Homo sapiens: one gene and its partner. Changing the gene in region 1 together with any one later gene gives a genetic interaction. Each region holds a gene or a part of one and is shown on either strand. Other genes may lie near its edges.

Region 1 (7,273 bases):
ATAGCGACTGTATAGCATATGAAGATAGGGAATGTACAGGACATGAAGATAGGGACTATACAGGACATGAAGACAGGGAATGTTCACTCTCACTTCCCCTACAAACATTTTATACTTCACTTACCATGAGAATTAGATCTGTAGCCATTTGTGTACATTAAATGCTCTTTTCCAAAAGGATAATAAAACCTCTAATCTCCTCAAGAGGACCAAATAATTTCACCTTGGTTCCCAAGGTGCTGGGAAGACGTATCTCCCTAGGCATGTGTATTTCAAAAAGCATGAAAAACAGACCTTGGAGACATCCCCAGGTTACAAGTGTCTCACATTCTGAAAGGTTAGGATAAGACCCCTGGAACCTTTTCATCCCATGTCAGGGGAGCTAAGGTGTTTGTCTGTTTGGTTTTCCTTTTTCTTCTTCTTTTTTTTTTCTCTCTCTCTCCTTTTGGGACGGGAGAGGGACAGCTGCTCTGTCCCTGTCAACAAAGTGTAGCCCACATGTACATTCCATTAGTTTTCAGTGTCACCTAAGGGTCAAGGTTTAGGGGCCTGACACAATAGTGTCACTCAGGCTGTTGCCCCAGTTGTAAATATCAACAAGGAACTCTTTTCTCCTACCCAGGGGTTTTGTGTTTCTGCAGTATTCATATGTATAAAGAATGTTAACTGTGAAGTGAAATCATATCTCAAGCCCTTCACAGTTACTGACAAAACATTATGTCCCAACCTCACCAAAAAGCCACCAATCTAAGTGTCTCCAAGTAGCCACAGCTGTCTGAGGACAAAGGCTTCCAAGAGCCTGGCCAGGAAAGCCCTGGCTCTAGAGCCTGCTCCACACATGGAGGCAGAAAGGCTCGAGAATGGCCCCGTCCATGCACAGCCTCCTCCTCGGCAGCACCCAGTGTGTTTTTCCTAACCTTACGTGGACCAGAGGTGAGGGCAGAGATGACATATTAGCACTCTCTTGAGAATATTTTTCTGGTTAAAAGGGTAATTGGTAATTGTGCTTGCTGTTTTAAATTTGGAAAATACAAAAATGTTTCAAGAAGGAAAAAAAAAGCCAAACACCCACAATTTCACCATCAAAAAGATATGTTTTCTTCCAGGTTTTTAAAAATACCCCAATATACACATATGTTTTAAAAATAAAACTAGAAGCACAATTTCATATCCTTTTTTCCCCACCCAATCAGCATAGATCATAAATATTTTCCCATCACTAAACGCTGCTCGAAAACACGAGCTTTATAAGCTACCTATAGTCTGTCTGGATGTGCCGTAATTCGTTCAAATGTGTCTCTATTGTTGGATATTTAGCTTGTTTCCAAGTTTTTACATAACAAAAGCTAATTCAATAAACATCCGTGTACATACATCTTTGTTCCCATCTCTGGTTACTTCACGTAAGTAGGTTCCAAGAAGCAGAATTTCTGGAACAGAGAGCTTAACATTTTTAAGACTTTAAGTATATAGCACCAAGGTAAATTCCAGAAAGTTTATTTCAATGTAGAATCCTGACTACAGTCACTGTGGAGTACTCAGTGCCCCACTCAGTGACCCACACTACCCACTTATGGAATTCATAGTTCAGTTTTAACTTGTCCCATCTGGTTGTTTTTTGTTTTTTGTTTTTTTTTTGAGATGAAGTCTCACGCTTGTCACCCAAGCTGGTGCGATCTCGGCTCACTGCAACCTCCGCCGCCTGGGTTCAAGCGATTCTCCTGCCTCAGCCTCCCGAGTAGCTGGGACTACAGGTGCCCGCCACCATGCCCAGCTAATTTTTGTATTTTTAGTAGAGACGGGGTTTCACCATGTTGGCCAGGCTGATCTTGAACTCCTGACCTCAGGAAATCCGCCCGCCTCGGCCTCCCAAAGTGCTGGGATTACAGGCGTGAGCCACCGCGCACGGCCAATCCCATCTGTTCTTTAGGAAAACACATTATCAGCCCATTCTATTTCCCTGATTCCATATTTACCTCCCACAATCTCAATAGCACAATTACATTGATTTATCATTACAAATTACAAATATGAATGCATTAAATTATTACATGTGCCCTGAAAATACATACATCTATTATGTATTATTTCAAGAGTTTAAAAATAAAATAAAACAGTACCAAGGAAGATCAGTACGGGGGGAGAAGGCCTAAGAGAGCTATTACCGTATTTCCGTGGTTGCCTCCAAAGGCAATTTTAGATTGAGTTTGGGGCCTCACATAGTGAGTATCAGTTTCCCCATCCCCAAACAATGCATCAACATCAGCACACTTATACATTCTGAGAAATGCACCATTAAGCAATTTTGTCATTGTGTGAACATCACAGAGTGTACTTACACAAACCTACATGGTATAACCTCCTACACACCCAGGTTTATGGTATGGCCTATGGCTTCCAGGCTGCAAACATGTACTGCAGGTTACTGTACTGAGGACCGTAGGCCACTGTAGCACAATGGCAAGTATCTGTGTATCTAAACATAGCAAAAGGTAAAAGTATGATATTATCATCTTATGGGGCCACAGTCATGTGTATGGCCCATTGATGACCTAAACGTTGTGATGCAGCAACATCACTGTACCCTAAGGTGACTTCAGCCATGTCCAAGTGACAACTACTCACAACTTCATGTTTCCTGGTGGTATAATGTCAGCAGCTGCCTAGCAGTTTTCCCATCAGCCTTTCTCATCCCCAGGATAAAAGGATCTGATCCCACAGTCAGCAGTGGAGGGTCCTCCAGTCTTTCAACTGGTCCTTGAGTTATCACTAATTGCCTAACCAACTTCACCTCACCCCTCCGATCTCTAAAACTCTTTCAGTGACATTTATGCAAAGACAGAAAATCTCCCTGCCTGATTGTCTCTTCACTCTCTCCCATTCAAGAATCCAGGAGTCACTAGTCACCTATTTTCCTTCTCATCACCCCATCCCCCAACTCTCACTTTCCACCAGCCTCCCATTGCTATCCTTTCACCCGACACACCCATCATATCTAGGTGTTAAGACACTCTTATCACCACTGTAATTTTTCTCATCTTTTCCAATAGATCTAGGGTAAAAAGGACAAAAGAATTCTTTCAAAAATAACATGGTAGATATTACTTGAAATAAAGCAATTTGTATGCAGTCCCTCCTCATCTGAAAGGTCAATCTCATGAAATGGGAAAATTGGTAGGATTCTAAGCTTAGGGGGCCAGGACAGCGTATTCTGTCTACAGAGTACTTCTTTGGATCTTCCCAAAATCTGACATTCATAAGAACAATTAAAATGTACACTCAATAAGAACAAATTAAAGTGTATACTCATCTCTCCTTTGATGGCATTAGGTGTGCGAGTATCAAATGCCTTCAGCAGATAGCAACAGTGTTAAGTATGCCCAAATGAAATTATTTATGAAAATCACACAGCAAGTAGTTAATTCTCAAAAATCGTCATTTAATGAAAACAGGACAGGCTTTTATCACACAAAATCCTAAATTAAGGTATTTTGCTGAACTAAATTAGTCTTGCCTTTGGGATAAAAATACTTAGAATCCATCATCAGAAGGAACCTCACACACCTGCTTCTCATCTGCAGCCATTCTTTGTCAACTCCGCTCTTTCTTGCTTATCAGAAGGGAATACTAAACTGATAAAGGAGTTATAAACCAAAATAGAAACAAAACAAAACCAAACGCCTAATTCTCCATGGCCTTCCTGGACAAAGAGACAAATACATAAAATAAAATAAAGTCCTTCTTGCCTCTTCAAAATGGAAAACTGGGCTGGGCGCGGTGGCTCACACCTGTAATCCGAATACTTTGGGAGGCTGAGGCGGGCAGATCACCTGAGGTCAGGAGTTCGAGACCAGCCGGCCAACATGGCGAAACCTCATCTCTACTAAAAATACAAAAATTAGCCCGGCGTGGTGGCATATGCCTGTAATCCCAGCTACTCGGGAGGCTGAGGCAGAAGAATCACTTTAACCCAGGAGGCGGAGGTTGCAGTGAGCCGAGATCACACCACTGCCCTCCAGCCCAGGAGACAAGATCGAGACTCTTTCTCAAAAAAGAAAAAAAAAGGAAAATTCAATGTATCACAAACTTAACATGAGTCCCATTTCTGTATGGCAAGCAAGGGCAAGTGGGCAGAGCCAACAGAGTGACCACAGGCCCCTGTCCGAAGTGCTTTTTAAAATGTGGAAAGAGGTTTCATCTGAGCCAAGGAAAAGATCAACTATTTGGCCCTGGGAAGAGATCCTCGATTCAGTGGCTTTCCATTTCTACTCTGGCCACACACCTGAGGGAGGCTGGGGAGCAGGGATCCAATGGTGAATAAGAGGCTCGCTATCAAGGCAGGAAGGGGAAGGAAGGGAAAGGGGGCTACAGATAGTCTCAAATCTAAAAGGTCCCGTGTAATTTCTAAAAGTCCCCTCCCCAGGTGATTTTCACAACACACACAGGTTCTGTCTCCTGAGGATGACAGAATTATCCAGCCACATTTTACAGTGAAAACTTCCAAAGGAGGAAGTGATTGGAGAACTAAAAGGCCACTCTAGGCATCTGAGTTCATGCACCTTCCACCGCAGAGCCTTGTACACAGCTGGCTGTCAAGAAATATTTAATAAACAAATGAAATAATAACACAATGTGTGCATTTAAGAAAACCATTGCATGTGTTACTACATTTAACAAAATCAATTATTCATTTAAAATAATTGCATGGGGTCCCTGGATCCCCAAGCAGACCAAGTTATTGATGGAGGGTCCCGGCTAGTTTCAGTGCCTCAGAAAGCCTAACGGGATGGTGAGTTTCTCTCACACGGAGCCGGCCAGCCTGTCCAACACACCACGGGTCTCTACCTTTGGCTATAATGAGTTCAGTGAGATTTGATGATACCAGTTTTCTCAAGGCAATCAGGAGTTCTGACTGGAAGTCATATGTGTTTCTGAGGAATAAAAATGGGCACTAGGGCCGGGTGCAGTGGCTCACGCCTATAATCCCAGCACTTTGGGATGCTGAGGAGGGAGGATCATTTGAGGCCAAGGGTTTGAGACCAGTCTGGGCAACATAGCGAGACCCCGTCTCTACACAAAAATGTATGTCGGGCTTTGGGGTGGCACATGCCTGTTGTCCCAGCTACTCAGGAGACTGAGGCAGGAGGATCACTTGTGCCCAGGAGTTTGAGCCTGTAGTGAGCTATGATCGAGCCACCGCACTCCAGCCTGGTGGACAGAGTGAGACTTTGACTCTAATAAAAGAAAAAGGATACATGAAGTCTACTTAAATAAACACAATTTGTTTCAGAGACAGTTTGTCATAAGATGGAGCTTCTGAGGGGGAAAATTATTTTTAGGGGATCTTTGAAGGTCAATGCCAAGACTTCAGGCCTGCTGCTTGCTCTGAATCCAACGAGCCTCAGACGGAGTCCCAGGGACAAAGGGGACCTGTGAGCTGTGTTTCCTGCTTGTGTGTTTTCCTTGGTACTCTATAAAAAATACTGTCTTCATGTTCAAATCTGGACCCTATATGTTATTCATCATTCTTTGTTCTTTGTTGATAAATTAAAGTTTGATGGAACTTCCTCACCCACTTTTCCATCAGTCACTCCCGCCACCAGAGCCACTCCTCAATTCAGCACACTGTGCATGAAGCTGGCATCGTGCACCGACCACTGATTACACTCAGGCCAAACACAGGGGGCCGACGGGGCAGGCAGAGACCGAAGGTCCTGACCTCCTACCCCTGTGCAGGAAGGAACATCATGTCTCATACAGATGAAAAGAAGAACTAATTTTTACTAATAATAACTGACATTTCACCGCAGTTTCGTTTATTTGCATATATTACGTATTGTAATATATGTTATAAATATATGCTATCAGTTAATATTTACTTTCATGTATGTTGTCACATATACAGTGTTGGGCACACAGTAAGCATTCAATAAATGCACATGAGCCAAGATGGTAAAGCAGGCCGGCGCAGTGGCTCATGCCTGTAATCCCAGAACTTCAGAAGGCTGAGGTGGGCAGATCACCTGAGGTCAGGAGTTCGAGACAAGCCTGGCCAGCATGCTGAAACCCCGTCTCTACTAAAAATACAAAAATTAGCCAGGCATGGTAGCGCACGCCTGCGCACACCTGTAGTCCCAACTACTCGGGAAGCTGAAGCACAGGAATTGCTTGAACCTGGAAGCAGAGGTTGCGGTGAGCTGAAAGTGTGCCACTGTACACCAGTCTGGGCAACAGAGCAAGACTCTGCCTCAAAAAAAAAAAAAAAGAAAAGAAAAAAAAGGTGGTAAAAGCAAAATACTACAATCAGCCCAGTGCACACCTGCAATGACAGATAATGAAGAAGTTGACACGAGAGTGAAGAAGATTCAGACTAAAGCACAGAGAGGCTTGGGAAGATTTTCTTATCTGACATAAAGAGGGAAAATACATTGGTCCAATCACTGTTATTTCCATATCATTTGGTCTCCATGGATACCACCTAACTTTCCTTCTGACAGGAAAAAATTCACTGACAATATCGGATTCCACTGTGAAATTTTTTTGATACTTTATATAAAAGTTATTCCATGTTTAATCTTTTATCATTATTTATATATGCTCAGAAGTAAAATCCCTCCTTGCTGGAAATTCTATGAGAAAGATAGTGTCTAATCCAGTCATGATTATCTGGCCTTTTTACACTAAGAATAATCTGATATAATTTTGAAAGTTAATGCCTTACACATTTGTAGACTGCCATAATTTATGCAATGTTCTTTCATATACAGTATCTCAATTGTTCATGAAAGCAACACTTACGAGATATAGTTAAAAATTATTATTATCCTCCTTACAGCTAACCCCAAAAGGTAATAACTATATTTTTTGTTGTTAATGGTCAGCTCACTCACCAGAACACAACCTAGTGTAAAGATGCTGTCTTTCTCGCTGTCAGTTGAGTATACAGAGGCTAGCACTGTGTCTGGCTTATAATAGATGTTCTAAGGATATTTATTGAGTGTGTACATAAATTCTCTTGTCTGCGTTAAGCCCTTTTTGGTATAAGGCAGATAAGGGAACTATAACCCAGATACTCCATTTAGATAGAGTACAGTGGTTTTTCACTATCAAAAGGATATTATGTGAAAATGCTCTAAAAACAACAGTTTTGTACGAGATGATGTTAAGAATAAAAATATAACATCGTTGGTAACATGAGAAAATTGATGCACATCAAATGTGGAGCATCCAAAGTGTCTATTTTTCCAGTAAGTTTAAACATCTTTTGCTCTGG
Region 2 (8,063 bases), on another chromosome or scaffold:
CAGTTTCCTCAGCAGGAAAATGAAGTGTAGAAGGGGATATATGGTCTTCGACTTAGATTGGATACTAAATCCCCTTTGGAGCAGAATGGGAGTTGGGGGCTGGGGGTGGTCAAATGATTTCACTATTAACCTTTATGATTCTGTCTCTTCTATCCTAACTTACCTTGGCGTGAAGAAAGTCAAGCCTCTACAGTCTTGTTCTTCCCTTAGAAAGGATGAGAAGAAATCGTCAGTCCCATTTTAAATAAAATCACCTGTGTCCTTTGGTTAATATTCTGTGATTTCAGGGAAGCACACGGTGGCAGGTACAACTGTAGGGTCCCTTTTCCTCTTCCAAGGGGACTGCTCCTCCCTGCACTGGGTCTTCTGCTGCTGTTCCTGCTCATCCTCCATAGAAGCCTTTCACCTTCATTTTTAAGCCAACTGGTCCTCCCTAATCTTATTCTTGGCGACCTTCCCTTTATTTCCACCTTGAGTCCTCCCCTCTTCCAGAATGGCTTCTCCTCCCACTGAAAGGTGAGAGAAGCAAACATTTGACCCACAGTCTTGCTCTCTCATTTGTGTGGAAGCTACTCTTCCGGTTCTCCAAATAAAGACAAGAGATGAGTTTCAGAGTGGACACCTTTCCTATTGCTCTTTTTCTCCCTTGTTAACAGTTCAGGTTTTGCCTTCTGTTAGTTTAATTTTAGGATTATTCCTTTTTTCCCACCAGCTGTAAGGTTAGGAAGTGTCTTCTGAGTTCTGAAATAATCTTCCTTCTCCTGTTCTTTCCCACAGACTTCTCAGAAATTAAAATTCTTCTGTCTGAATATTCACTATGATAAAAATATAATTAGAAGGGAAAGCAAATTTTGGAAACCCCAAACCTTGGTTTCCCCACAAGTCATCTGGAAATGATTAGTATTGCTATTATCATTTATTAAGTTGGTAGATGCTGAACTAAAGGAATAGTTTAAAAAATAATTTTAAAATCATATATAAATGATTAGATGAGAATACAACTGTCTTTCTGAAGGGAGGGCTAAAAAAGATATTAATACTTAGATGTAATGATACAGGTGGTTCTATAAATACTCTGAGACCTTGGACATCCTGTGGGTTTTATAAAGTCCTCTGGAGAACACTTACATCTTCATTCCTAGGGTGGGAAGGGAGCTCTACTTGTGTTCTTGAATTTACTTAATTTTTGTTTCCCTTATGTAGGAAGTCAAAACACTGACCTCATTCCAAAACATCCAACAGCCCCTGAAGGTCACCGTCCCAATGTTTAGGCCCTGAATATGTTTGTCAAAAGTTTTTGGGAGGTGAGCTGTGTCATGAGAAGGAAGCTTGTGCTATTTTTAAATTGATTCAACTCATCATCGAAACATATCGTACACATATCACACCAATGACACACACAGGCTGCATTGTAACATAGCATGTGTCATACATATATTCTCTCTCACTCATACACACATACTCGCTCTTCTTGTCCGGCTTTTAAAAAGGAAGGCAGCCAGAAGGCCAAGCCCAGTGATTTGAGTTGAAAAGGCTGTTAAAGTTTAAAAACCAAGTGTCCCTCTAGTTCTCAGCCTGGCTTTGAGACATGTGGGAGGGCTTCAAAGCCTCAGTGCCCCTCTCTCAGGCTCAGGCTTACAGTTGGTCCCCAAATGTTTACCAGCATGAAGATGCCTAACTTACAGGAAGCGGGAAATGGGTGTGGGGGGTGAGGGTGGGTGGGTGGTAGGGAGTAGGAAGAAGAGGGTGGGGGGGTTATTCTCTTGATGTGGTTAGCCTGTCATTGACCTTGTTTGGGTATGGCAGGAGTTGAATGAGAAAATGAAAACATGTTTCATCTTGGGTACATTTCATCCCTTTTTTTTACCTTAGGAAAAAAAAGTTCCTTTCGAAAAAAAAAATTTTTTTTCCCCAAGTGGAGTTCAGGTCTCCAGATTTGGTGCTCAATTTCCCTTCATTCTACAATAGTCCTTTCCCTATAGAGTCATCTGGCCACCAACATTGCAATTCCCAATCCACCCAGGAACTGGGAGAGGAAAAAAACTGGCCCAGTAGCTGAAACCGAATTAAAATTGGCTGATGGAACTGTTGTGATGATGCCATCCACGGGAATAGATGAGAATTTCTGAGAACAGAACTATTTGGCTCATTCATGATTTGCTGCCATTGTGAACACTTTTAATGTGAGAGCTCTGCCTGAGAAATGCTGATTAATAAAGATAACTGAGGTTCTTTTCGGTGTTCTAACTTGGGGGGAAATAATATAGTGACTAAAAATGCACCAAGTTATTACTTAGAAACAAACCCTTTGAGACATAAGATTCCAGACAGTGGCAGCCTCTGATAGCTCTCTCTGCACAGCTGTACTGCTGCCAGGGTCTCCCAGCTTTAGTCAGCAGTAAAAAGGTGCACTGCTCAGGCCCTCTGGGAGGACCGAGTGAAGTTCAGAGGTCAGTCCCTTTTATTCCCCCTTAATGGTTTTGTGCTGGACAATACCTAAATATTACAATATGGACATGTTTTTTCCTATTATGGAGCAAGCTTCCTTTCTTTTATTTCTTCTTCCTTTTTGGTAGCTTTCATTTTAAATGATGATATCCATCATTGACTACTATAATCATAGTCAAAAGTTGGTTTGGAGGTTTTTTTTTTCCCAATCACTTTGAGACAAGAAGCAAACATGTGAAGGACTTTACATTCCAACACTCTGTGTCTGAAAATTTACTTTCCTTAAAGTTCTACCCGTGGCCTTGTCCAGCTCAGCTGGGACACCTGGAACTAATTTTAGGGTTGCCTGGCTAAGCCCCACACTGGTATTTGAAGTTTGCGTCCTCCCTAGACTCAAGCCCATTTCACCACCTCTGAAGGTGAGTGCAGGCTGATATTAATTAACAGTGAGTTGATTCACTGGCATCTTCCAGTCATTAAAGCAAATATTTGGCTTAAAATAGCCTTCTTCCCACCTCAAATATCAAACTTTTTGCCTATTCCCTTACTCTATCATGGTTGACTCACCAGCAGTTGCATGATGGTGTATGTGGCCTAAGAACAGAGTTTGATTCTAAAAGGGAAGTGAAATACTCTTTAACATCTGCAAGTGAGACTGTTTGAACAGCAGGCCAGCCTTCAGTATGACTACATTGTTTTTCTGTCCATTGTGGTGCTGACTCAGCATCAGTTAATAAACCCTCTTGAGCAGGCTGGATTTCTCTTGTTTAATTATCAGCTTGGAGCTTTCTGAGGACTCTTAGGAATTGTTCATTCAGTTTTCCACCCCCAGCAGATCTGCCTTCTAAAAGTCCTGCTTCCTCTTGGTGCTAGCGTCCCCTCTGGCATAACATGCAATCACAGGTGGGCCACGCAGCAAGCAGCGAGTGTGTGCTAATCATGTCCCCTAGTGGGAATTTAATTGTTCTGTACTGAGAGAGAGATTGCAGCAAGACTTTAGACACCATTTCCTGGCAAATAATCTTTTGCCTCTCCCCCTCTCCCCTAAAAAAAATTCTAGAAAAGTTTTCTAAAAGTGAGAAAAGAAATTTTAAAGATAAACAGACATATTTTTTAGGATTGAGTTGGGCTTTTGTTTTGCTTTGTTTCATTTCTTCCTGTAAACAAATACTCAGATGTCCATTTCATTGTATGACTAAGTTGGTATCATTAGGTTGGAACTGGGTGTGTGTATGTGGGTGTGTGTGTGGGTGGATGTGTGTGCACACGTGTATTTAAAATGTTAGAAAAGACATTGCAGGTCGAAGGAGAAATGATTTTAAAAAAACCTACCTATGGTAAGGCAAGCAGGAAAAATGGAAGACCTGGATTTCAATGATCTAAATAATAATTGAAATGGGGTGTTTGCTATAAACATTGTTTCTCTGAATTAAAGGATTCCTTGCTGAAGGCACAAGACCATTGAAGGAAGTAAAGCATCTGGTTTGTTTTGTAATGAGAAGCAGGAATGCAAGGTCCACGCTCTTAATAATAAACAAACAGGACATTGTATGCCATCATCACAGGATGTCCTTCCTTCAACAGAGGACTGACTGGGCTGGAGGAAAAGCTGGCCGGGGCTCAGAATAAGCCCCACTAATTACTGCCTCCGACCGCTTTCCACTTGCAGTGATCAGTTCAATATTCCTCTGAACTGTGAAACGACTAATGCTCTACATTTTACTTACACTCCTGGGAAGTCAGCCTGTGGGTTCTGGGAGGAGAGGAAAGGAAAACAAACAATCTGTAGAATTATAACTTTTGCCTATTTCCCTATTTACTAAATAGTTAAAAGAGGAAAGTTAGTTCTGCCAAGTTTGAACGTTAGCAGGAGAAACGGAATGTTACAACTTTTGGGGCGGGGGGCGGGGAAACGTGCGTTACATACACAACAGCTTGAGGACCAGACAGCTCCACTGTATTACACTAGCTGCAAAAACAATTTAACTTGCTCTTTTGAAGTAAGATTTGTGTCTTTTGTACCTGGGGATTTGAGCTGAGAAATCAGAAACTGTGTAGGTAAATTTTAAGTTTCCTTAATTTAAGGAACGTGCGCCCCCTAATTCTGCCGCGCCAGGAAGGAGGGCGATCTGGAGTGTTTAGAATACAATAGAGCCCAAGTAAGCGTTGAGGTTAAGTGCCTTCAAAGGGAAGTAAGAAGATTCCAAGTCAATGTTGAAATACACATGCGAAGAGAGGAAGCTCTCGGCGGCTGTGCTAGCAATCTGGGGGAAAGCCCTGGGCTCGGCCAGGTGGTGTTGGCCACGTTGGCCACGCCCCCACTTCGCGCAGCCGAGTGGCTAAGGAAATCTTAAGCAGGGAGGGGAAGCCAGACGGTTAACACAGACAAAGTGCTGCCGTGACACTCGGCCCTCCAGTGTTGCGGAGAGGCAAGAGCAGCGACCGCGGCACCTGTCCGCCCGGAGCTGGGACGCGGGCGCCCGGGCGGCCGGACGAAGCGAGGAGGGACCGCCGAGGTGCGCGTCTGTGCGGCTCAGCCTGGCGGGGGACGCGGGGAGAATGTGGACTGGGTAGAGATGAACGAGACTTTTCTCAGATGTTGGATATTTGCTTGGAAAAACGTGTGGGTACGACCTTGGTAAGGAACTTGAATTTTTTTTTTTTAATTCTGAAATTGATCTGAAAACTTTATTTTCTTTTCCTTTATTGTTATTATTATTAATTTTTTTTGGCTAATGTCGCAGTAGAAACATGCTTCTGCTTTAGTGCACTTAGTGCTGTCAAACATTTGTGAGACTTTCCTTATGAATCATTAACCCTTTCAGTTCTAGACATAATTGCCAATTCATTGAAATTTCAGTAGTGGTTCCAGCTCACACTCGTCAAACTATTCCGGGTTGGCTGAAGTTTTCTATTTTATTTTATTTTTAACATGTGTTTGGCGTCATGACTCTACATGTTGGAACTAAATAAAAATAAGCAGGTTTGCTTAAATCATAACTGAGGGAAAAACAACTTTGCATCCAACTTTTTTTTTTTTAAGAGCATCCTATTTAGAGAAGTGGAAGAATGTAAAAACCTCCTTGAAGGACTTCCACAGAATGTTATGTTTACATTTGAACAAACACACATTCTTACATGGAAATGATACCCATATTCCTCATTTTTATCAAACATGTCTATATGAGAAAACCCTTACAGAAGTTGTTTACCTTTTTTTGCCTTTGGAAAACAGTTTTTTTCTGAGTGTGAGGGAGGATTTTGGGGGAATATCCTCATCAATGTACAAGTGGAAGCAGAGCTTGTCCTCCAAGTCTTCTAAATTTGTTATAACTTTAGTTACAGTAAACTGTAGTACATCAGTGACTTCTGGGAATTCATACACTTTCAGATTTAAATGGAAAGTGCTATTTGTAGCTGAGGACTCCTAAAGGAATTCTCTCCAGGGAATTTTATTAAACGGTTTTATGTTTTGTTTTTGCCTTTTCAATTTGGTATGAGATGCTTGCAAGTCAGAAGACACTGCAGGCTGTTTTCCCCTTCACCCATTTTTCCTCCTCTTTTCCTGTGGTCCAAGTGATTTCTAAGAGGCCGTAGCTCAGTGATGCTGGCAGGATGCAACCCTTTTCAGTCTTCCATGTGAGAGGATGAAAGAGAGCTCGCAGCAGAGGGAGGAGGCAGTTGTTTTGAAAGTTGTTTTGCGTTGGGAGCTGGTGGGAAAGTTCGGTCTTCCCCATTTGGAAAAGGCAGGCTGGGTTCCGCTCCTGCACCACACGCGCTTTCCATTTTTAGCTTCATTCAGAGGCAGACAGAGCTCCTTCCTCTTCCTCTCCTTGTTTGTGACACTTTTCTGAGGCAGCTTTTCCACAGTGCCGAGGGTCTGGCGGCCATGACCCCAGGCATTCTGGGACACTGGACTGTGTGCCCAGAACATTTTTCTGCCATGAGAGGTAAAGCCAGGGATTGTTCAGAGGTGATTCTTTTTTTTTTTTTCCTTTTCCCCACAGTGAGGTTGCCACATTCTTTTTTTTTTTTTTTTTTTTAACTAAGAGTAGCATTTAAAAACCTTGCTTCTTTTCAAGGCAGTTTACTTTATACGGCTTCTTGGCTCTTTCTCAACTGTACCAAGCACTCTGCATCTGCTTTTAAAGTCTTCAGACTACTGTATTAGTCATAGCCTCTCAGAAGGAGCCACAGGAACGGCGGGACAATGGGGATTAAAGGCCTTTCCTTTCTCTTCCAGGCTGCCCCCAAGTGTAACTCCAGCACTGTGAGGTTTCAGGGATTGGCAGAGGGGACCAAGGGGACCATGAAAATGGACATGGAGGATGCGGATATGACTCTGTGGACAGAGGCTGAGTTTGAAGAGAAGTGTACATACATTGTGAACGACCACCCCTGGGATTCTGGTGCTGATGGCGGTACTTCGGTTCAGGCGGAGGCATCCTTACCAAGGAATCTGCTTTTCAAGTATGCCACCAACAGTGAAGAGGTAAGCCTCTGGTTTATTGACAAGAAGATTGGGGACCTGGTGCCAAATCTCCCTACTTGCCCTTGAGGCCTTGTATATCTCTGAAAACCTCTGAGAATCTGTAAGTATCAGTAAATAATTGATTGCTCTATTCAATTCTTGCATTGCTTTCTCTTTCCCTAAACCATTTCCTTCTCATTTCTTCCAGCCTTCAACTGTTCCTCACTAATTAGTAAACAGTTAAATATTTTGGCAAATTGGCATGTCTTAGAAAAGCAACTTGCAGCATAGGGTGGGTGAAATTGTCAGTGAACTTCAAGAAAGCTCTGGGCCCACTGGCCCTAGTGTCCCTGTTGTACAATATCTCTTAAGGGAGAAAACTTTTTCTTGGAAAAAAAAGTTTTAATATTTCTTTTGTCTGTCTTTGGTAATTAGTTGGCTTTACTCTTTTTAACAAGCCAGCTTTATTAGCTGGGTTTCTAAAACTATCCTCAAAACTTTGACGTGTTTATGAAGTGAAGTGATGGTATAAGCCGAGAAAGGGGGTCATGTAAAAGTGTCCTCTGTCTGGATGACTTCAGAGCTAACCACTGTTTATCTGCAGCAGCTCCTTTGCTGGGGCTGGGCTGGCAGGCCAATTCCTTACTGGCCTCTGAAGTGGGTACACTCTTTGTTGTTTCAAAGGGGATGAAAACCCAAACTTGGAATGAGCAACTGATTTGTGTTTACCTTTAATATAAAGATTATAGCTAGGCGTGATGTTTAGCTGTGAAATAACTTGCAGAACCACCTCTTGTTTTCAGAATTTGGCTTACTGTAGTTGCACTTACTAGTCTACTACTGGGTTGAGTTGAATGAAAGGACCCCTCAGCAGACTTCCCATACCACCATTAGCACAGAGCACTGTCAATTCTATTACTTCCTTCAGAAAGTAGGGAAAGGGGATGGTTGGCCGTAGAAATCCAGAATTTGCTACTGGGACTATTCCTTACAGCCGTGTCAAATCACTTTCCCCCTTCCCTAAGGAACAGTATTTGAAGGAATCCGGGAGACTAGGAAATGCTTTGTCTCTTTCCTGTTTGTGTGTCTGAGTCCAGTGTTTTTGGTGAGGGGGAGACACAGCTGTCTAAAATTAAATAGAACA

Evidence for each region.
Region 2: of IRF2 (region 1) and PRDM1, changing one suppresses a phenotype caused by changing the other (phenotypic suppression), as found in Homo sapiens cells (one study listed by BioGRID).

Annotation. Positions count from the first base shown.
Region 1 is NC_000004.12:184,464,440-184,471,712, forward strand, and holds part of IRF2 (interferon regulatory factor 2), read right to left. Parts: intron 1-7,273. UniProt on the Homo sapiens protein: Specifically binds to the upstream regulatory region of type I IFN and IFN-inducible MHC class I genes (the interferon consensus sequence (ICS)) and represses those genes. Also acts as an activator for several genes including H4 and IL7.
Region 2 is NC_000006.12:106,081,510-106,089,572, forward strand, and holds the start of PRDM1 (PR domain zinc finger protein 1), read left to right. Parts: upstream 1-4,826; 5' UTR 4,827-5,044; coding exon 5,045-5,086; intron 5,087-6,244; exon of another isoform or gene 6,245-6,337; coding exon of another isoform or gene 6,338-6,421; intron 6,422-6,691; coding exon 6,692-6,940; intron 6,941-8,063. UniProt on the Homo sapiens protein: Transcription factor that mediates a transcriptional program in various innate and adaptive immune tissue-resident lymphocyte T cell types such as tissue-resident memory T (Trm), natural killer (trNK) and natural killer T (NKT) cells and negatively regulates gene expression of proteins that promote the egress of tissue-resident T-cell populations from non-lymphoid organs.